Linked DNA regions of Homo sapiens: region 1 is linked to region 2. The links come from fine-mapping of genetic effects on gene expression. A gene starts in region 2. The other region holds a variant in brackets. All regions are shown on one strand. Distances are between the middles of the regions. Region 1 overlaps CAP2 (cyclase associated actin cytoskeleton regulatory protein 2). Region 2 holds the start of FAM8A1 (family with sequence similarity 8 member A1).

What was found. PIP is the estimated chance that this variant, and not a neighbour inherited with it, causes the effect.
Region 1: its variant is fine-mapped to the expression of FAM8A1 in nasal epithelium (TOPMed, PIP above 0.99).

Annotation. Positions count from the first base shown.
Region 1 is chr6:17,516,311-17,528,360 of GRCh38, forward strand. All of the region lies in intron 7 of CAP2 (cyclase associated actin cytoskeleton regulatory protein 2), which reads left to right. Among named protein-coding and RNA genes, the nearest start is that of FAM8A1, 78 kb to the right of the region's middle. The variant C/T (reference allele first, on the strand shown) is at 6,310.
Region 2 is chr6:17,595,958-17,608,007 of GRCh38, forward strand. It overlaps FAM8A1 (family with sequence similarity 8 member A1), which reads left to right and starts at 4,345. Exons shown (of 5, transcript NM_016255.3): 1 at 4,345-5,164; 2 at 6,633-6,753; 3 at 8,949-9,072; 4 at 9,917-10,056. The coding sequence starts at 4,453. LOC102724591 (a long non-coding RNA gene) reads right to left here and starts at 3,019. Exons shown (of 5, transcript XR_007059485.1): 1 at 2,796-3,019; 2 at 1-19. RefSeq lists a silencer at 4,204-4,683 and enhancers at 5,750-6,250, 6,251-6,751.

The DNA.
Region 1 (12,050 bases), 80 kb before region 2:
AGAGTAAGTGCTCAGTAAATGGTTTGAACTAAATGATCATGAGGGGACTCTTAGAATGTTTCTTGCCCTTTTGAATCTCTGCACTTGCTTTTCATGGAAACTCCTTTCCATTAGAAATTAATGTTACAGTGGACTTAAGGGACTTGAGGGAAAGGTTGGGAGGGGGCTGAGGGATAAAAGACTACAAATTGGGTACAGTGTATACTGCTCAGGTGATGGATGCACCAAAATCTCACAAATTACCACTAAAGAACTTACTCGTGTAACCAAACGCCATCTCTTCACCAAAAACATATGGAAATCAAAATAAAATAAAGAAATTAATGTTAACTTGAATGAAACAGCTTCTTTGTGAATTCCATTCAGAGGTAAAACTCACTGTCCTGAAAGCAGTACCCCAGCACCCAACCCTCCATGCTGGATGTCCCTGTCAGTATAGTAAGCAGGCTTCATGCCAAAGGAGAGTTTGTGGTTTTTCAAGAGAGTGTGGGGCCTTCTACATTTGTTTTCCAACACTTTTACAAATGTTAACACGACCCTTCAAGACTGATGTTTCTTTTTATATTCTACTTCGCCTATTTTCTCCATAGCACTGAAATGCACAGTGCAAGATACAACTAAGCGGATTGTTTTTTTTTTCCTAACCACAACATTGTGACTTTTGAGAAGAGAATTCAAAAACATGTGAAGGGTTTTAATAAGTAAGGGTATGTGTGGATATGGATGGGTGTTTATGTAGACTAATTGGAATTATTTTTTATCGATTTCCAATGAGATAGTGTTTTGTTGTACAGCCATGTATCATAAAGAGAAAGTGTCACATCTTTGCCATGGTGATAGATCATTATTAGAGAACAGTAAAATGAAAATCAGGAGCCCTTGGCTCTATTATTATTTCATGGTAGATAAAGGCCAGAGGAATGAGAATCCATTTATGGAAAATAGTGTCAACAAATGCTAGCCTGTTAATTCTCTAATGGTGCCCATGGAAAATGAATAGAAAATTACTTTTAAATGGTTTGAATACCTTTAATGCAATGTGCAAAGCTGAGTAATTGTGTTTATGAATATAAAAGAGAATTGATTATTAATTACAGAAAAATATAAATGTAGTTGTCTTCCTTTGTTCTAAAGTGAATACTTATTATGTTCAAGCTTCACAAAACAATACTTGCTCTTACTATGTACAACACATTCAGATATTTTATTTTTTATTTCATTTTTTATAAAATTCTGGCTGAGACCCAATAAATTGATTTCATGACCCCACTAGTGAGTCATATCTCACATTTTTTAAAATGTGTTATAAGCTAGGTGTGGTGGCTCACGCCTGTAATCCCAGCACTTTGGAAGGCTGAGGCAGGTGGATCACCTGTGGTCAGGAGTTTGAGACCAGCCTGGCCAACATAGCAAAACACTGTCTCTACTAAAAATACAAAAATTAGCCAGGCATGGTGGCGGGCACCTGTAATCCCAGCTACTTGGGAGGCTGAGGCAAGAGAATCGCTTGAACCCGGGAGGCAGTGGTTGTAGTGAGCCGAGATCGTGCCACTGCCCTTCAGCCTGGGCAACAAGAGTGAGACTTGGTCTCAAAATAAATAAATAAATAAATAAATAGTTATAAAACGTGTTACATTTATACAAAATAAATATGATCCATAGAGCACATCAGGCATCATGGATTGCCATGACAGCTGTTATTTATATTATACATATTATGTGCTCACATAATATGCCAGGGGAATATTCTATTCAAAATGGTAAAAGCAAAGCATCTACTTCACTTCTCTAATGGAAGAGAAAATGATAAAGTTTTGGTCAGATATTAAAAATGATTAAAAATCTTTTGTCAAGCTTTAAAACATATGCCTAGAAATATATTTCCTGATTTTTTATCTTATTCTTCCAAGGTTTGGGCAGCTATTAAAAAGTATATTATAACAATTATATTTTTGAATTTTAAAATCAAATTTCTTTTAAATTATTAAAAACGACTTAAAGATTCCAAAGCATAGTCCATAGCATAAATCAAGCTAATTTCTCCTCTCTGACTGTGGCCTGTCGACATTCCAGCAAAATGGAGGATAAACAGTTATAGCCAGAGTTGCAGCATTCTTGCAGAGAAGAGAAAAGGACTCCTAGAATCATCTGATTGAATGGTCTTTGGGAGGAAAAAATAAAGCAAGACCATTTCATTTGTTTGCCCACTGATCACAACTCTGTAAAAACTATGTATTTATAAAATGATAAATATCATGAAAGACTATAGAAAGATGTGGTGTTGATGTTTGTGGACACCACAGTATTCAGAGATTTTTTTTTTAATTTAATTTTTTTGTTTTTTTGAGACAGGGTCTCACTGTGACACCCAGGCTGGAATGCAGTGGCACAATCATGGCTCACTGCAACCTTGACCTCTTGGACTCTAATGATCCTCCTGCCTCAGCCTCCCGAGCAGCTGGGACTACAGGCCTGCACCACCACACCTGGCTAATTTTTTTATTTTTTGTAGAGACAGAGTTTTGCCATGTTGCCCAGGGTGGTCTAGAACGCCTCAGCTCAAGGAATTTGCCCACCTCGGCCTCAGAAAGTGCTGGGATTACAGGCGTGAGCCACCACATCCAGCCCAGAGGTTTTTCAAAAAAACCCATTCCATCTTAACAGACACAGTCCATTGCACAAAACTCCTACTTGCACCGTGAAAAGTTTATGACGACTTAACATCTCAAGTACTTTCAGTAATTGTTGTTTTTTTCTATTTTCAAATTGGATTTTGAGATTTGCACTCTGTGGGGTTTTTAGTGACTGACAGCCTGCTGTTTGAGACCTGGACTGTCCAAGGGCACGTGGCTCTACAAAATCATCCTTCCCTGAGTTAACAGTTGGAGCTGAAAGTCCCTGATCCCATCTCCTAACCTCTGCCTCCAGACCGCAGCTGTGTCAGGCAACTGCTGCCCTGTTCAGTTGTCAGGGTGAAATGCCAAACTTTGAGACCAGCGATTTGAAGAGAGTCTACGTGTGTGTGCAAGTGTGCCGGGTGGGGTGGGGTGAGTTGGGTGGGAGGAGGCAGCTGTGGAATAATCTGTCTGGAATGTCTTCTTACATTTACCATGGTAAATGGAATCTTGTCATTTCTATGAGCTTTTTTCCAACTTATTAAGACAGCTGTCAACTAGAAAGACCCCACACCAGAAACTAACTTGCTGTTTTCAGTTAGTTTCATCCTTGGGACTGGACCTCTTTTTCATATGAGTTTGTGTCATTTCCTCAGTGCTAAGTTTCAAATGCACTTCGTTGAACAAATTGATCTTTTGGCACAAACCCATTAGCAGCACTGTTACTTAGGATCCCTCGCAGTTGGTCAGAGCTGTAATATTCCTTGGCATTTCCTTCAAATCAGATAACTAAAGTCGAAAGACTAAGGCCTAGTCTTTACCCTTATAATTATTGAAATAATTGACTTTTTTCCTACAAAACTCTTCATTTCTGTGAATCTATAAATGCAGACTATTATCCTGTTCTAAAAACAGACTATTATCTGTTCAGAAAATTCTGCTCAGATAAAGGTCATGTAAAGAATTCTATGATTAGGAGAAATGTGATTATTTTATTAACTTTCGGTTGTTAAACTTGTTGACATATTTCTGTCCTTTCCTATATTTCTGAATTACTTTAGCTTTGGGATCAAATAAGATATAATTATTTGTAGAGTAGAATAAAACTGCACATGGATGAATGTATATACAGTCTTATGTAATAGTGATGTAGTTCTATTTTTTTTGTTGTTACTGTTTTTTGTTTTGTTTTGTTTTTTTGATACAGAGTTTCGCTCTGATGCCCAGGCTGGAGTACAGTGGCACGATTGCAGCTCACTGCAGCCTTGACCTCCTGAACTCAAGCAGTCCTCCTGCCTCAGCCTCCTAAGTAGCTGAGGCTACAGGCGTGCACCAACATGCCTGGCTAATTTTTATATTTTTTTTGTAGAGACGTGATTTCACCACGTTGCCCAGGCTGGTCTCAAACTCCTGGGCTCAAGTGATCCGCCTGCCTTGGCCTCCCTAAGTGCTAGGATGATAAGCATGGTAGGATGATAAGCTGCACCCAGCCAATGTAATTCTTAATAATACGGGTTTTAAAAATCCATCCTATACACTATCATCCATCCTAGCCTCTCCTGAACCTCCAGGAAAATGCAAGTCGTTGGTGGTGGTTACAATTATAGACAAGGTGGCGTTTCATTTTTCCCAAAGCAAAATGCTTTAGGATCACTTCTTTTCCTCCAGGTAGATATTTCTTTTCTTTCTGTTTCTTGGTGTAAAGGCCAAATGTCTGTTAACAAAGTGAAAGTTTAATAGCTTACTTTTGATCAAATTAAAACTCAGCCAGAGGGTATCCCGACTTATTATAAATAATGTAGACTCTGTGGCATGTCATTAACTATGAATATGTATGCCTTGTACGTTTTCAAGTCTTCAGGCCTCTTTACCTTCCTCTTGCTATTTACAAGAGAAAACTGTTCTTAAGCTTTTATATCCAAATTTTCATTTAGAACTTGTACCAAACCCACACCTTAGGGGTATTAATCAAAGTGAATGGGCAGCGCCTCAGATGATGTGTTGGTTGTCTGATGACAAAGCTCACTGTTCTCTATGGCTCTTCCCACGGAGTGGCCCTGGCCAGTGTACCTGACCACAGCTGCGTCGTTCTACTTAGTTCAGTTTGGGCTTCTAGGTCCCTTCTGGGGCTCTGGGTGGCCAGTTACTCTTATTCTCTTATGGAAGGGTTCCACATTGCTCAACAGGGGTTAGAAGTGTCATCAACTGGCTGGGCGCAGTGGCTCATGCCTGTAATCCCGGCATTTTGAGAGGCCGAGGCGGGCAGATCATGAGGTCAGGAGATCGAGACCATCCTGGCTAACACGGTAAAACCCTGTCTCTACTAAAAATACAAAAAAAAAAATTAGCCGCACAAGGTGGCGGGTGCCTGTAGTCCCAGCTACCGGGAGGCTGAGGCAGGAGAATGGCATGAACCTGGGAGGCGGAGCTTGCAGTGAGCCAAGATGGCACCACTGCACTCCAGCCTGGGCCACAGAGCGAGACTCCGTCTCAGAAAAAAAAAAGAAGTGTCATCAACTAACAAAGAAGCCTCAAATGCACAGGTAGATAGTAAAGTTAGGTTGGAAGTGGCTGTGAGTTCAGCCTGACAGAGACCACATAATTAAACCAATATGGCTTAAGCATCTACTATGCACTGAGTTCTGGGCAAGGGGCTAAGAATACAAAGATGGGTAGATGGCATTGTGGACACGATTCCTGTCCACGGAAACGCGCATTCTAGCTGAAGAAGATGAGCAATGCACCATGATAGAACAGGGGGAGCAGTGTGCTAGGGAATCCACACAAGGCATGACGCTTGCATAGACCAGGACCACGTGGAAGATACGGCCCATCCTGTAGTGCAGCATGGTTCTGGGGCCAACAGCAACCTGGGCACTTGTTAGAAAGCTCAGGCCCCTTGATTGGGCGCGGTACCTCAAGCCTGTAATCCCAGCACTTTGGGAGGCTGAGGCGGGTAGATCACCTAAGGTCAGGAGTTCGAGACCAGTGTTGCCAACATGGTGAAAACCTGTCTCTACTAAAAATACAAAAATTAGCTGGGCGTGGTGGTGCAGACCTGTAATCCCAGCTACTCAGGAGGCTGAGGCAGGAGAATCGCTTGAACCTGGGAGGTGGAGGTTGCAGTCAGCCTGCATTGCACCACGGGACTCTAGCCTGGGCGACAGAGCAAGACTCTGTCTCAAAAAAGACAAAAAGGAAAGAAAAAAAAAGAAATCTCAGGCTCTCAGGCCCCACCTCAGCCCTCCCAAATCACAACCTACTTTTCAACAGGATTCCCAGGTAATTTATATGCATAGTGAAGTTCGAAAAGCACTGCTCTACTGTATTTAAGTTGGGCCAAAGGAGTTGTTATAGGGAAATCATTCACTTTTACACGTTCATTTATTTAGTAATTCACTTCCTTGGTAACTACTTATTGGCTACTTACCATGTACCAAGCACACACCAGGCATTATATTTATACTACAGTTCTTCCGTGAAGCAGCAGGGTTTTTATTATGATGCATAAATAAATAACAGCAATACAAAGCTAGGTTGGAAAATAAGCCTTGTGAATTAGACTCCTTCCTGGGTGGGCACGAAGAGCCACAAAAGGGCTGACACTTGATTTGGATCTTGACGGTGAGCAGGAGTTCCCTAGGCAAACAGTAAAGGGAAGGGCAGTTTTGGGGCAGAGAATTCAGCATATGTA[C/T]GTAAGACATGAACAATGTACTTTGAGAGAAAGGCTGGTGGTTTTGCAGAGCTGAATGTGGCAAAAGGTGAGGCCAGAAAGGCAGGTTGGGGCCAGATGGTGAAATCCTTATGCATTATGCTAAGAAGGTGGGGCTATGTAGTGTTTGAAGTTGTTTCCTTTGCCATAGGTTTTGTTGTTTGTTTTTTGTTTTTGAGACAGAGTCTCACTCTGTCGCCAGGCTGGAGTGCAGTGGCACGATCTCGGCTCATTGCAACCTCCGCATTCTGGGTTCAGGTGATTCTCCTGCCTCAGCCTCCAGAGTAGCCGGTACTACAGCCATATGCCACCATGCCTGGCTGATACCTCAGGTGATCCACTCGCCTTGGCCTCCCAAAGTGCTGGGATTACAGGTGTGAGCCACCGTACCCAGCCTGCATGGGTTCTTAAGCAGAAAGCAACACACTGTGAATAATGACTTAGGAATTGCATAAGATAGATGGAGAGGGGAAGAGATTAGAGGCCCTGATACGTGTTGGGAGACTTTAGTGGATGGCTAGAGGGTGAGGTAGTTAGTATGTGACCTAGAGTGTGACAATGGCAATGCAAAGAGATGGAGTAGCCACTGAGTTGGAGGACAAGGGACATAAAATCTAACACAAAATTTCCAATCTGGAAGTCTGGGAGAGAATCGTGGTAATATAAAAATAGGGAAATCGCAAGGAGGAGCTGGTAGAGAAGGAAGAAAAATCTTCACCTGGGGTTTCACTGCATTGTGTTTGAGGTGCGGGAGGTATAGGAGAGACATCCAAACACGTGGAGTCAGGAGGTGAGATTTAGATCTGGAATTCACTGAAGGGGGAGACCCCGATGTACGTGTTGGGAGTCATCTACCTAGAAAAGACCGGCAAATAAATAAGATGGTTAAAAAAGAGAGAGTGAGATCAAGGATAAAACCTTGGAAAACACTATTATTTCAAGAATGGGGTAAACTAATCAAGGAGACAAGAGATAGGAGAACTAGAAGAATGGAGAGTCTCAAAGCTATAGGGAAAACAGGCTGGCCAGTGATACCAACTGTAGTAAGCTGTGGTGAATAAGGATTGGACAAAGGCTGTCATCAGCCATGTTTACCATGTTATTAGTAACCTTCCAAGAGCAGTTTCTGGAGGACTGGAGGCAGATGCAGTTTTACAGAATTAAGGAGTAAAATGTTTTTGTAATCAAAGTACTTTGGGAGGTTGAGGCGGTTGGATCACAAGGTCAAGAGATCAAGACCATCCTGGCCAACATGATGAAACCCCGTCTCTACTAAAAATACAAAAATTAGCTGGGCGTGGTGACGCATGCCTGTAGTCCCAGCTACTCAGGAGGCTGAGGCAGGAGAGAATGGCTTGAACCCAGGAGGCAGAGGTTGCAGTGAGCTGAGATCGCGCCACTGCACTCCAGCCTGGTGACAGAGAAAGACTCTGTCTCAAAAAAAAAAAAAAAAAAAAAAGGAGTAAGAAGTTTTCCTGTAATGATCTCTTGATTATTTCTGGACCAGTTGTCTAATTTGATGGATTATTTCTTATGGCTTCAATTTCTGCCTTTTGAAATTTGGGGTATTTGTGAATTTTCATTTTAATCTGTGCTATATCTTCAATAGAATAGGTGAAAAATAGTCAAATATCTCCAATTTCACACACAGTCATTAAGAGCTATACTGTGAAGCTCTAAGTAAATGTGTTCTATTTAGAACTGTTTTTATTATCTCATAAATACCTTTGAGTTTTAGTGTCAGTTGATAATGATGCAGGGAAGGTGAACCCCAAAAGTGGGGCTTAGCCAGGAGGGTTCTTGGCTTTGCCCAGGCGAGAATTCAAGGGTGAGCCAGCGGTGTTAGACAGCAGCTTCTATGGCAGCAGCAATGTGCAGCAGCAGCAGGGGTACCATAGGAACTGTGCCCAGAGTAGCAGCTCAGGGACCATTCTGCCATTATATTTATATTCACTTTTAATTATAGGCAAATTAAGGGGGAAGTTATTCAGAAAGTTCTAGAAAAGAGGTGATAACTTCCAGGTCATTGCCATGGAAAGGGGTAGTTAGTAACTTCCAGGTGTTGCCATGGCAGTGGTCAACTGACATGGCCCTGGTGGGCATGTCTTCTGGAGAGGTGCTTTCACCTCTTTCCCCCATTGCAGCGAGTCTTCAGTCTGGTTTGGCATTCAAGTCCTGCCCAGCCCCAGTCAAGCCTGCCTCATACCTTAATAAGAATCTATAAATATTTTAGAGTATTTCTTTTCTTTTCTTTTCTTTTTTTTTTTTTTTTTGAGTTGGAGTTTCGCTCTTGTCACCCAGGCTGGAGTTCAGTGGTGGCATGATCTTGGCTCACTGCAACCTCTGCCTTTCGTGTTCAAGCGATTCTCCTGCCTCAGCCTCCCGAGTAGCTGGGACTACAGGTGCGCGCCACCACACCTGGCTACTTTTTGTACTTTTTTTAAAAATAGAAATGGGGTTTCACCATGTTGGCCAGGCTGGTCTCGAAATCCTAACCTCAGGTGATCCTCCCGCCTTGGCCTCCCAAAGTGCTGGGATTACAGGCATGAGCCACCACACCTGGCCATTTTAGAGTATTAAATCTTTCTCTCCATCAATCAAAATAGTAGTAGCTTTTAAAGCTGCCTACTTTAATGGTCAGTATTATTTTATTTACCAGAACTTTTTCATAATCAAGAATTCAAAGCTCTCTAAAATAAGGGCTAGCAAGTTAATATACATTTATTGAACCTGCGAGGCGGTTGAACCTGTGAGGCGGAGGCTGCAGTGAGCGTAGATCACACACTGCACTCCTGCACTCCAGCCTGGGTGACAGAGCAAGATTCCATCTCAAAAAAAAAAAAGAAAGAAAAAAGAAGCTTCTCCAACCTCTGCTTATCACCATGCCCACCACAAGCTGGAAGTTATCCTTCCATCCTCAGCGGCTGCATAGCACTTCTTATACTCTCCATTTCTTTTGTGTTGCTTAGCATTTCCTACCTTATATGGCAGTTATTTTCTCATTCAGTAACATGTTTATGAAGCACTTAACCATGTTTCAGGCACTGTGCCACATTGAAACATGGAATTCCCTCCTAAGAGAGTTCCAAAAACCCTACGAAAGGAGGAAAGACACATTTTGGTTGAGGCTTGAAGGCTGTTTTCCAGATAGTCAGTTGGGCAAGAGCCTTCCAAACTAGACACGCCCTGAGCAAAGACTCAAAGTCTGGGAGCCAAGTGCCTGCCACGTCTGGGAACACAGAAGTATCCTCTCTTCCTAAACTATGAGCTCATTGAATGCAGGCTCCATTTCCAGTTCAGCCTGAGATCAGTAGCAGTGACTGGTACCCTGGTTCTGGGACAGCAGTGACTTGAAAACAGATAGGATTCAAACACATTTGCTAAATCCACTGTATTCATTTGTCATCACAATGAAATTTCCAAAGCGTTAGTCCATTAACTATAGATCATGTCTGTTTTTCAAAAGCTGCATGAAAATGTGTCTTTTTTTTTTTTTTAATGATGGAGTCTCGCTCTGTCGCCCAACCTGGAGTGCAGTGGTGTGAACTCAGCTCACTGCAACCTCCACCTCCCGGGTTCAAGCTATTCTCCTGCCTCAGCCTCAAGAGCGGCTGGGATTACAGGCACGCACCACCATACCTGACTAATTTTTGTATTTTTAGTAGAGACAGCGTTTCACCATGTTGGCCAGGCTGGTCTCAAACTCCTGACCTCAGGTGATCCAACCTTCTGTGCCTCCCAAAGTGCTGGGATTACAGGCGTCAGCCACCGCACCCAGCCAAAATGTGTCTTTCCTTCTGTCCAGTGATAGGAATGGAATGGACAATGCATTTTATTCAGGAACACCCATCAACCGCCCACACCTCCTCTGCTCCTGTCCCTTGTCACCCACTGCCTTTCATTCTCAGTTGGTATAAACTCAGGAAACAGAAGGTAGTATTAACTTAAGCAAAAACTGTTTTCTTAAAAAGGGAAATGGGGGAAGGTGCAGATTATCTTCTAAAGGTAAAACAAACCCTTCATAAAACAGAACACACAGGCTGGGCGTAGTGGCTCCCGCCTGTAATTCCAGCACTTTGGGAGGCTGAGGCAGGCAGATCCCCTGAGGTCAGGAGTTCGAGACCAGCCTGGCCAACATGGTGAAACCCCGTCTCTACTAAAAATACAAAATTAGCCGGGCATGGTGGCGCATGCCTATAGTCCCAGCTACCCGGGAGGCTGAGGCAGGAGAATCGCTGGAACCCAGGAGGCGGAGATTGCAGTGAGCTGAGATCATGCTACTGCACTCCAGCCTGGGCGACAGAGCAAGACTCTGTCTCAAAAAAAAAAAAAAAAAAAAAAGAACACATAGGCAAGCCCTGGCCACGGTTTATTGGTCCAGTCTGCACCCTTGATGCAAACTAAGCATCCCTAAATAAACAAAATGCATATATAATATGGAGCCAAAGGTAACTAATCTTTCTAACAGCTATTGTTTTGCCTTAACCCCCACCTCTACTATCTACTAAGTATAGATAATTGGAGAAAGTACAGTCGTTTCTGTATGCCCCTGAAATCTGAAAGAAAAAAACCTGAATTTAGTGGTAGTTCAGACTTAGGCCCTTCTGGCCAAATGAAGTAGCTGTCCAGCTAATTCAAGCCACATGTCCCTCTTGGTCTTTATATAACTGTTGGGCCTCTTGAGTTTGTTTCTTTGATGAGTATACTCTGCTATCTTTAACCCTGGAAAGTTTTCCCATGGAAAATTTAATTTTATCTTTCCTTTTTTATGAGAAATTGTATTCTCAAGCTGGCAGACAAGAAGAAAAGACAATCTGGAAATTCCAGATTTGATCTAAATGTCAGCAAAGCCAAACTAATAATTATGGCCACATATCAAGGCAATTTATGCAGAATATATGGATCACTTGAGCATATTAGATTGTGTTCATTATATTCTTTTTCATTTTTGTTCTCTTTCTTTTTTTTTTTTTTTTTGAGACAAAGTCTTGCTCTGTCGCCCAGGCTGGAGTGCAGTGGCACGATCTCGGCTCGCTGCAGTCTCGCCTCCCGGGATCAAGCGATTCTTGTGCCTCAGCTTTCTGAGTAGCTGGGATTACAGGTTGTGCCACCATGCCTGGCTAATTTTTATATATTTTGTAGAGATGAGGTTTCACCATGTTGGCCTGTTGGCCAGGCTGGTCTCGAACTCCTGACCTCAAGCGATCCACCTGCCTTGGCCTCCCAAAGTGCTAGGATTACAGGCGTGAGCCACTGTGCCTGGCCATGTGTTCATTATATTCTTCTGGACTCTACTCTGAGGGCTTGGTCTGCTTTTATCAAAAATTTTTACTTTGAGCATGTAGAAAAGAAATCACCACCTATGTTTTTAGAAGGGCCACATCTGGGTATACAGGTAGCAGTTTGAGTACCCATACAGGCATTCTGTTTTTGACTTCAGTACACTATTTAATAAATTACCTGAGATATTCAACCCTTTATTGTAAAATAGGCTTGGTGTTAGAAGGTTTTGCCCAACCGTGGACTAATGTAAGTGTTCTGAACACGTTTACGTTAGCCTAGGCTAAGCCACGAGGTTCAATAGATTAGGTGTATTAAATGCATATTTGACTATTACAATATTTTCAACTTATAATAGGTTTATGGGACGAAACCCCATTATAAGTCAAGGAGCATCTGCATAAATTAGAGAAAAACAAACATAAAGACACTAAGTTACTGGT
Region 2 (12,050 bases):
TTAATCATTTCTCTGCTCTCTAGTATAATAAGATATTTCGTGCTCATTCCATACATTTCCTGCCCTAAACCTAGAACCCCTTGTTTCTTTTAGTGGGACTTGGCATTTCATACTATATATCTATATATCTATATACATATAGATATATGTATATAGTCATGTGCTGCATAACGACATTTTGGTCAACAATGAATGTCATATACCACTGTGATCCCACAAGATTATAACAGAGCTGAAAAATTCCTATTGCCTAATGACATCTTTATTTCATTTTATTTTGAGACAGGGTCTTGCTCTGTCACCTAGGCTGGAGTACAGTGTCGCAATCACTTAGTGACATTTTGATGATCCTGACCCTGTGTAGTCCTAGGCTAATGTGTGTTTGTGTCTTCATTTGTAACAAAAAAAGCTTAAAAAGTAAAAAAAAATAATAATTATCAAAAACTTTAAAAATAAAAAGCTTATAGAATAAGGATACAAAGAATATTTTTGTACAGTTGTACAATGTGTTTGCGTTTTAAGCCAAGTGTTATTACAAAAGAGTTGAAAAGTTTTTAAAAAATCAAAAACTTTATAAGGTAAAATGTTGCAATAAACTAAAGGTAATTTATTATGGAAGAAAAAAAATTTTAAATAAATTTAGTGTAGCCTAAGTGTACAGTTTTGTATCAAGTCTTCAGTAGTGTGCAGTGATGTCCAAGGCCTTCACATTCACTCACCACTGACTCACCCACGGCAACTTCCAGTCCTGCAGGCCCCATTTATGGTAAGTGCCCTACACAGGTGTATCATTTTTAACCCTTTATACTGTATTTTTACTGTATTCTCTATGTTTTGATATATTTAGATGTACAAATACCACTGTGTTACAACTGCCTGCAGTAATCAGTACATTAATATGCTGTACAGGTTTGTAGCCTGGGAGCAATAGGCTATACCATATAGCCTAGGTATATAGTAGGCTGTACCATATAGGTATGTGTAAGTAGTACAGTCTATGGTGTTCCCATAAGGACAAAGTCGCCTAATGATGCATTTCTTAGAACATATCCCTGTTGTTAAGTGATTCATGACTCTGAGAGTGTGTGTGTGTGTGTGTGTGTGTGTGTGTGTGTGTGTAATGTTAGGACACATATATATATGTATTTCAGAAAAAAATTTTTTTGAATTATAATGTGTTATAATTAGTTCTGTTACCTGTCTTGGGTTTTCTTTATCAAGAACTTCTAATCTATATGTTGGATCTTCTTTGCCTATTTTCAATATTTATCATTTCTCTCAAATTATTTCTGTTTACATTTATTTTTGATTAAAAAACTCATTTTCAAATTGTAGTTCTTTTCAGACACTATTGTATTTTCTTATTCTTTTATTCCTTGTATTTTAGTCCTCTTTTCTGAAATCAGTTTTTCTTTTATTTCTAACTCTTTCCCAAGTTCTGTTACTTCATTCCTGAGTTTTTCTTCTGGCTTGTTTTGCTGTTTCATGTTTCATATCATTTTATATCTTTACAGTGACACTGTGCCAGGTGTTACAGAAACAGTGGTATTCAAAACAAAGTCCATGTCTCCAATAATCATATTTCACTCATTCCAAGCCACATTTATTTCTTTGTTTCTGTTTCTCTTTCTTCCCTCACCCCAACTTGGAATGCTTGTTTAAACATTAAAATTTTCTCATAGTTGATTTTAAAATGAAATCTGTAAGGGTAAACTTTTCTAGCTATAGGCTACCATAATCTTTCCCTTATTTTGAATTCTTGAATAAGTTTTCAGTTTTCTTGACAGTCTGTCCCTTGAACCTAGATCATTAGCTTTTTAAGGAAAAAAATTATGGCTTTTTATATCTCCCAGAATAAAGCCAACAATGACTCTGGGGCTGGGCGTGGTGGCTCACACCTGTAATCTCAGTACTTTGGGAGGACAAGGCGGGTGGACTGCTTGAGCTCAGGAGTTTGGGACCAGCCTGGGCAACACAGTGAGACCCCCATCTCTACAAAAAATGAAAAAAATGAGCCGGGGGCAGTGGCACGTGCCTGTAGTCCCAGTCACTCGGGCTGAGGTGGGAGGATAGTTTGAACCTGGGAGGTCAAAGCTACAGTGAGGAGTGCCTACACTGCTGCACTCCAGCCTAGGTGACAGAGTGAGACCCTGTCTTTAAAAAAACAAAGAAAGAAAAAAAAAAAGAATGACCCTGGGCATTGTTGGAACTCAGAAAACCATACCCCAAAATGAAGACCTCAGAAGCAAAAGATTTTTCCCACCTTCTCCAACCCTCCTGTCTCAATCCCATTCTTCCCCCCACCCCCACCCACAAGGCTAGTCATAGAAACTGGAATCCGTCTTTCCCAAAGCAGGGCATAGAAACCAAAACCCCACCCTTTCCCAAAGCCAGCCACAAACCTAAAAATATTACTCTAACCTCCCTGCACCCCTTTCTGTGCAAATATTGGACATAGAGAAATTATCTGGCAGAGCGCAGTGGCTCACGCCTGTAATCCCAGCACTTTGGGAGGCCGAGGCGGGTGGATCACCTGAGGTCAGGAGTTCAAGACCAGCCTGGCCAACATGGTGAAACCCCGTCTCAACTAAAAATACAAAAAAAATTAGCTGGGCGTGATGGCGGGCGCTTGTAATCCCAGCTACTTCGGGAGGCTAAGACAGGAGAATCACTTGAACCTGGGAGGGGGAGGTTGCAGTGAGCCGAGATCGCACCATCGCACTCCAGCCTGGGCGACAAGAGCAAAACTCTGTCAAAAAAAAAAAAAGAAGGAAAAGAAAAATTATCTGACCTACCTTGTTTAACTGTTGTAGGCCACAGCCCCCATTCCAGAGGGTCCTGTTCCATACCCAGAAGGAATGAATGCTGCAGACAGGCCAAGGAGAATCCAGATAGGCCTTGCTGGGTTTCTTGCCTGTTTGCATCAGAGTGTTTTTTGTCCAGTCATTTTTTTTGAGACGGAGTCTCGCTCTGTCGCCCAGGCTGGAGTGCGGTGACGCAATCTCGGCTCACTGCAAGCTCCGCCTCCCGGGTTCACGCCATTCTCCTGCCTCAGCCTCCTGAGTAGCTGGGACTACAGGCGCCCGCCACCACGCCTGGCTAATTTTTAGTATTTTTAGTAGAGACGGGGTTTCACTGTGTTAGCCAGGATGGTCTCGATCTCCTGACCTTGTGATCCGCCCGCCTCAGCCTCCCAAAGTGCTGAGATTACAGGCGTGAGCCACCGCGCCCGGCCTTGTCCAGTCATTTTTTTATACGGCTGTCCATGCTTTGTTGAACCTAAGCATACAAATACACGATTTCCCTTGTTATCTTTGGGTCTTCATTCTGAAGGCTCCCGTGTCACATAAAACGATGGTCAAATCAATGTCTATGTCTTTTCTCCTATTAACTGCCTCCTGTCAGTGACTTTCAGCGAAACTTCAGAAGGTGAAGCGGAAGTTTTCCTTTGGCCCGGACAGCATCATCATTAATATCATTAATAAATATTCCCACAGTATTTGGCCCTTGTATGTCCTTTGTATGGTGCTGGGGATACAATAACATATCGCTGCAGAGATTTTCAAATGTAAAAGAAGAGAGATTATACTGATTTAAAAGCTAGATTCTGTCCTCACCCTGGAGCTAGTCTGCATTTACGAAAACTTACTTTCCACTGCGGTAGACAGACGCTTTCTACTCCAGCGCAACTGTGCCTTTCCTCAAATCTAGTCTCAAATTTAGGTTCCTTTTCATTTTCTGTTATGGAAAGGCCCTCAGCGTATCCCAGGCTTTGGAGCCTTTTGTTAGTAGTCTGGCCCATGCATAATTTCCCCTTCCTCTGAATTATACATAGCACCTCACTAGTTATATTTTAATACACTTTCCTATGTCTCAGTGGTAGTTTCCTATATTAATATATATCCCAGTTTAGTTTGGCTTTTAATTTCTTTTCTTCTAAGGGGATAGATGCGTTCTGTACCACCTTCTCGAGTACTAATGGTTAACTGGAATGAACACAAGCAACAAACCCTCCGGCCTGGATCCCAAAACAACAGTCGCGGTTCTGCAACAGAAAAGGCTGCGCTGGCCCTGGGACCTGTCTCGGAAATACTCCTCATCCATCTAGTTTCTCCCAGGACAACTAGGCCCAACCCCACGGGAATATACAGAGAGGCCTCGGGTCACAGACTTAAAGCTGTAAAAGGGAGGAGGCGACGGTCTGGTCCCAGTCACCGACCAGCCACCGACTACTAGGGCCCGAACCCGGGACTGCAGACGCACCTCCCCGCCCTCCCTTCCCAGCTCCGCCTGGCGGCGGGCGTTGCTCCTGAGGGGCGGGGCTTCCGCTTCCGGCGGGGGATTGTTGACGCCTGCGGTTGCTGCGGTGGTGACGGGGCTGTTGGGGAGGGGCCATTGGGGGAGGGAAACGGAGCAGTGACAGGTATCCCAGAGGGTGCTGCTGAGGCGACGATGGCCGAGGGGCCCGAGGAAGCCCGAGGCCACCCTCCCGGGCAGGACGATGGCGGAGGGGACCACGAGCCCGTCCCTTCCCTGAGAGGCCCTCCTACCACCGCCGTCCCATGCCCCCGCGACGACCCCCAGGCCGAACCCCAGGCCCCGGGCCGGCCCACAGCCCCGGGCCTCGCGGCTGCCGCCGCAGCCGACAAATTGGAGCCGCCGCGCGAGCTCAGGAAGCGCGGGGAGGCGGCCTCCGGCTCCGGTGCAGAGCTGCAGGAGCAGGCGGGCTGCGAGGCGCCCGAAGCCGCGGCGCCACGAGAGAGACCAGCTCGGCTGAGCGCCCGCGAGTACTCCCGGCAAGTGCACGAGTGGCTGTGGCAGTCCTACTGCGGCTACCTCACCTGGCACAGCGGCCTGGCCGCCTTCCCAGCCTACTGCAGCCCCCAGCCCTCCCCGCAGAGCTTCCCTTCGGGCGGCGCTGCAGTCCCCCAGGCCGCGGCGCCGCCGCCCCCGCAGCTGGGCTATTACAACCCCTTCTACTTCCTGAGCCCCGGGGCCGCGGGGCCTGACCCGCGGACAGCTGCCGGCATCAGCACCCCTGCTCCAGTCGCGGGCCTGGGACCCCGGGCTCCTCACGTGCAGGCGTCGGTCCGGGCCACTCCAGTGACGAGGGTAGGATCCGCAGCCCCTTCGCGAAGCCCGAGCGAGACCGGGCGACAGGCAGGTGAGAAGCGCGAGGTGGAGGCTGGGCGGAGTAGAAGGGTTTTCGGGGGCCTGTGGGGTAGAGCTGGCACGCTTTTTAGACCTGTAACTGCTGCTTCTACTCTGATTGACTATCCTGCCCGTTCAGTTCACTAGCTATCGTTTGTCCAGGCCCTAAATTCCCAAAATGTACAAGGAGGCAATACAGTTTCTTCTTCCTTTAGACCTGGCACTCCAAATTGACTCCCTTACTCATGGGACTAGTTGTTTATTCGTGAAAAGAAATTGCTCTTCAAACCATCCTCTTCCTTTGGTTTTCACGCTCTGCAGTGAGGGCCAAAGCTAAATTCGCAAATGGCAAACCCACTTTTGGAGGGGCTCGACTGGTAATGCTGAAAATTATTCAGACATTGGCTACTTAGGACAGTGGAACTGAACGGATATAAAAGGAGATCGACATGGATACAAGTGGAGTTAGGAAGTTTTGATTGGGTCAAAGCTTCACTTCATTTGATCAATATCTTGTATATTGTGTAATTGTTTTTGCTTCTGTGTGTGAACTAGAATATTTTGAATTAGTTACACTTCTTAGTTTACTATTTAAACTATTAGACTTTTAGTTTATTTTAGTTAGCCACAGATAGATGGGACAAGAACTAGTTGATGCCTCTGATCCCAGTCAGAATTTAGGATGACAGATTGATACTCACTGGGTTTATTTTAAAGAAAGCAAAACAAACTAAAAAACGGGTGGGGGGGGATTACAGGGATTTACTTTATACTAATTGCCAATATTTAACCTTGATTTGTACTAAAAAATGTTTAATTTTGTGTGACTTAGATGTGATCACCTGGATTCTCCTCATTAGAATTCCTAGTGAAATGTAGTGGGTACCCTAATCAAATTTATCTGTGAAATCAGTTTTCTAGGGGGAAAGTGGGGAGGGTGGGGACAAGGTCTGCTTCTATCGCCCAGCCTGGATAGTGCAGTGGCGATCTTGGCTCCCTGCAGCCTCCGCCTCCCAGGTTCAAGCCGTCCTGCCACCTCAGCTTCCCTAGTAGCTGGGACTAAAGGCATGCGCCACCACGCCCGGCTAATTTTTGTATTTTTTGTTGAGACGGGGTTTCGCCATGTTGGCCAGGGCCAGACTGGTCTCGAACTCCTGGCCTCAAGCAATCTGCCCGCCTCGGCCTCCTAAAGTGCTGGGATTACAGACGTGAGTCACTGCACCTGGCCGTGTGAAATCAATTTTTAAACGTTAAGGTGATGAAAGCAAACTTTAAGCTCAGTAAATAGTGGATTCTCTGTTACTCTATTTTAGTAACATGGATTCTTGGTGGAATCAATATCAATAGTTGCTGCACGGTTATAAATATTTTTTATTAAGTTGTACCTTGACTTTCTTTAGCAATTCATTACATGGCTTGTGTTCCAAGGCTTATGTGAAATGATTCGTTTTTCCTAACTTTTTTTTTTTTTTAATTTACAGGCAGAGAATATGTTATTCCATCCTTGGCCCACAGATTTATGGCAGAGATGGTGGATTTCTTTATTCTCTTCTTTATAAAAGCAACCATTGTCTTAAGCATTATGCACCTCAGTGGGATAAAGTAAGTTGAGGACATTTGCAGAAGGGTTTTAATTTCTACTGTTTAATGATCTTGTTTTATTACATTCTGTTTGTCTACACGTGACTATATGGATAATGGGCTTGTCAGTGTCATGATTTCTTTATAAGAGCTTTGTTAGATTTATTGTTTTCTTGTTGATTTTAAGAAATAACTAGAAAGGAAAAAAAATAGCTTACTGAATTCTATAAGATGTGTGGGAATCTCACCTATCAAAAATAGGTAAAAAGAGCCTCCAAACCTGCTTTGATTTTATTCACCTATTCTTTTAGGCCAGGAACTAATTTACCTCTCACTATCCTGTTCCCTCTTGCTATCTTGTGGAGTCTCTAAAGACAAAGGTATAAAGAGCTTTTGGTAGGTGAATTAATAATCAACTAGATGGCATTTCCAAATGGGATTGCACATACTGTGGGGCAAGTCCCAAGTGAACTTCAAAGTGAGACGTTTATTTGAGTAATCCTTCCAGATTAACAATAATCATAATAGCAGTTACCACTTCCTGAGTACTTTCTATATGCCATGTATTGAGCTTGCTCACTTCTTTATGTGGATTCTTATTTAATCTTAATACCAAGATGAGGTGTAGAGATTAATACCACCATTTTATAGAGTTTGAAATTTGGGTTTATGAAAAGTTGAGCACAGAACCTAAAATGTTACAAAGGTAGTAAGTGACAGAGTCAAGATACAAGCCTGTGCAGTCAAATTTCAGGGTCCTTGCCAGAAACCTGTTACTGTGATTCCTCCCTGTCCCTCCCTCTCACTCCACTCCACATCCAGTGAAATACCAACTCCTTTATGTTCAATTTTCTGAATAGCTTTCAACCCCAGACCTCCTCACTGCCAGATCATTTTTCTTTTTTTGAGACAGAGTCTTGCTCTGTCACCCAGGCTGGAGTGCAGTAGTACAATTATGGCTCACTGCAGCCTTGATCTCCTGTGCCCAAGTGACACTCCCACCTCAGCCTCACAAGGAGCTGGGACCACAGGCATGCTCCACCATGCCTAGCTAATTAAAAAAAAAAATTGTTTTTTGTAGAGATGGGGTCTCCCTATGTTGCCCAGGCTGGTCTCAAACTCCTGGGCTCAAATGATCCTCCTGCCTTAGCTTCCCAAAGTGCTGAGATTACAAGCATGAGCCACCACACCTGGCCCATTTTTTATCATCATTGCTTCTCCCTACTCCGATTACTGTCGTCTCTTGCTTGGATTATAGCAGAAGCCTTCTAGTGGTAACTCAGTCTCCTGTTTTATCTCAATCCAGTCTCTGATATAAAACCAAAGTGATCATAAATCCTGGTTCTGTTCCTTTCCTACCTTAAAACCCTTCAATGGTTTCTCTTTTTAAAATGTTTATTGTTTTTTTAGAGATGGGGTCTGTGTTGCCCAGGTTGCTTTCAAAATCCTAGGCTCAGGCGATCCTCCCACCTCAGCCTCCCAAAGTGCTGGGATTACATGCGTGAGCCACCATGCTCAGCCCCTTCAATGGTTTCTCTTTACCAGCAGGATAAAGTCTGAATTTCATCATGTGGTTTATACTCAGGAGGCTGTCTCAACCTCCCAAGTAGGTGGGACTGCAGGTGCATACCACCACACCCTGCCTTTATTTCTTAATCACTGCCACCTCTCACATTTAGTATATGAGCCACACCAAACTGCTTACAGCTTCTATCATATTCTCTCTTTCTCCAAGACATTCTCTCCTGCTGTTCCCTCTTTCTGGAACGTTATTTCCTCTTCTTAGTCTGGCTAACTTCTCTTCATCCTTCAGAGCCTCATCTAACTGTCTTTTCTGGGAAACCTTCACAAGGTTAAGTGTATCTGGTGTATGTTTCCATAGTATCCTAGGTTCCCCATCACAGCACTCATCCCACTTTATTATTGCTATTTATTTATTGTTCTGTTTTCTTTGCTAGGTTAGACCCTCCACGAAAGCAGGGACCGTGTAAATTCATTCACCCTTATTTCCCCCGTGCTAGTACAGTGTCTGCTCATGATAATGCTGCTTATTTGTTGAATAAACTAATGAATGCTTTATGATACTAGATGGTTGGGAATCTAAAGATTAGTTTAGAATTTCAATTAAAATGTATGACTTGCACTAATGAAAAAAAAGTCAGTGCTACTGTTCTGGTAACTAATTATTTATAACCCCAAACTATTATTTTGTGTAGGGATATCTCTAAGTTTGCTATGCATTATATAATAGAAGAAATAGATGAAGACACATCAATGGAAGACTTGCAGAAAATGATGGTTGTGGCACTTATATACAGATTATTAGTTTGTTTCTATGAGGTAAGCTACTGACTTCAGCAAGAATTAATATTTAACAATCTAATTTTATGTTTTTACATTTATTTTTTTGAGACAGAGTCTCGCTCTGTCACCCAGGCTGGAGTGCAGTGGTGTGATCTTGGCTCACTGCAACCTCTGCCTCCTGAGTTCAAGTGATTCTCCTGTCTCAGCCTCCTGAGTAGGTGGGACTACAGGTGCATACCACCACACCTGGCTAATTTTTGTATTTTTAGTAGAGACAGGGTTTTGCCATGTAGGCCAGGCTGGTCTCAAACTCCTGGCCTCAGTGATCTGCCCACCTTGGCCTCCCAAAGTGCTGGGATTACAGGCATGAGCCACTGCACCTAGCCAACAATCTAATTTTAGATTATCAGCCCAAGACGAAAAAGTAATCGAAATTTATAATTATTCATGTCTTTTCCACATGTCTACTTTTCTGTTTTTTTTCCCAAATTTTAACTAATCATTAAGTAAAAACTTTTGGAAGAGAGACATTTTACAATTTCTTTGTAATATTTTTCAGTCTTAGAAACTCAAATAAAATTTCACTTATAGATTGTGGTCCAAAAATATACTTGTAAATTGCAATGTAGTTTTCTGCAGAAGCAGCTTACTAGAAAGTATAGTAGTCATAGAGAAATATTACAGGAGACAGACATCTTGTGGTATTGGACATGTTAGAGACCTACAGAAATGCATAAAGTTAAATGGTTAACTTTTGAGTATTCTATGCAATTCTTTCAACTTGAAAAATTTAAAACATGAAATAATATGGTGGGAAAAGTTTATCTTTAAAATTGGTATAGTTGAGCCAGTAATTTTTAAATCATCCTTCTTTCCTTAGATAATTTGCATTTGGGGAGCAGGTGGAGCTACCCCAGGGAAGTTCCTGCTGGGGCTTCGAGTTGTGACATGTGATACATCAGTGCTTATTGCACCAAGTCGGGTTTTAGTGATTCCTTCCTCAAATGTTAGCATTACAACGTAAGTCCTTTTCTTAGCTTAATCTACTACATACTTAATGAAAATAATGTGTTTTAGAATATTGGGGTTTTTTTCTTCATAGTAGATAGGCTTATATTTATTAAGTTAAAACAAAGTTTGAATATTTATTTCAGTTGTGTTACATGATTGTAGACCTCTTTTACAGTACACATTTTCAAGATGATTTTTTTTTTTTTTTTTTTGTGAGACGGAGTCTCACTCTGTTGCCCAGGCTGGAGTGCAGTGGCACAGTCTCGGCTCACTGCAGGCTCCGCCTCCCAGGTTCACGCCATTCTCCTGCCTCAGCCTCCCGAGTAGGTGGGACTACAGGTGCCCGCCACCACGCCCGGCTAATTTTTTGTATTTTTAGTAGGGACGGGGTTTCACCGTGTTAACCAGGATGGTCTTGATCTCCTGACCTCATGATCCACCCGCCTCCGCCTCTCAAAGTGTTGGGATTACAGACGTGAGCCACCATGCCCTGCCTCAAGATGATCATTTTATGAATTATAAGTCACAATACGAGAGGATGATTTGGGTGTTGATGGTGTATTAGTGCTCCACAATCAGCTTTATTATTCTTTGGACCTGTGGATGTTAGGTCAGGTACTAGTCTGCCTTGAGTCTCCATTTGGCCATGCCTGTCATTATTCCATCTTGAATAGGCAGCAGAGTTTTGACAGCTATGCATTCGTGCATCCTTCTCCTGCTGTTAGGTGAGAGCTTGTAATACTGCCAGTATTCAAGGTTAGCTGTTGGCATCTAGCGCTGGGGGAAGGTACAACCAGTGATAATGGAAACTGTGGAGGTCAGTGGCTGGTAGTCAGTTGAGCCAAACAAGGTATTGGCTGCAATTTTTGCCAGAATGATTCAGAGCTGGATTGTTACATCAAGAAATATAAACAAGTGATTCTAGAAACCTTGGTTTTGCCATCTTCAAATTTTTCTTAAAATTTGGTAGTTATAGCCGGGCACAGTGGCTCACGCCTGTAATCCCAGCACTTTGTGAGGCTGAGGTGGGCAGATCACGAGGTCAGGAGATCGAGACCATCCTGGCTAACATGGTGAAACCCCGTCTCTACTAAAAATACAAAAAATTAGCCGGGCGTGGTGGCGGGCCCTGTAGTCCCAGCTACTCAGGAGGCTGAGGCAGGAGAATGGCATGAACCCGGGAGGCAGAGCTTGCAGTGAGCTGAGATTGCACCACTGCACTCCAACCTGGGCGACAGAGCAAGACTCCATCTCAAAAAAAAAAAAAAACAAAACAAAACTGGTAGTTATAAACCTACCTACTTCTTTTAATAAGAGTCAGTAATGGCTAATGTTTATTGAGTACTTTTTATATACCTGCACTGTTAATAACACTGCATATGTATTAATTTAATGCTAACAACCTCATAAGATAGAGACTATTGATCTATATCTATAGTATCATAAGATACTATAGGTAGTCTCTATCTATATACTATAGGTAGTATCTATATACTATAGGTAGTATCTATATACTATCTATAGTATCATAAGATAGATACTATTGTTCCCTTTTTGCAGATGTGGAATACAACTAGTAATTGGTAGACGATGGATCTGAATTTAACTAGTCTGGATTCAGAACCCACACTCCTAGCCACTGTACTTTTCTGCAGCCCTTCAGTGCACTAAAAGGCAGAAATCTAACATAAGTAGGATAATTCTCCATCCTGAGTGATTGTTGAAAGCTTTTAAAAGCTTTGCTTAATCACTGGATCCCACAAAGGAAAATGCTGATTAAAGAACACACAGTACTTTAAAATGCATGTTTTTTCTATAAGGTAGACAAATGGGACTACAGTAAGCATACTCAGAAAGTACTCAGAATTAATGTTCATTTCTTCTGAGAAAATACTAGAAAGCTCTGTAAACCATTAATTCAATATTCTGAGACATGTTTATTACTGCTTTTTATGTTGTTGAAGTCTTATTAGAAATAGCCCAGGTGGTTTGATCATGATACA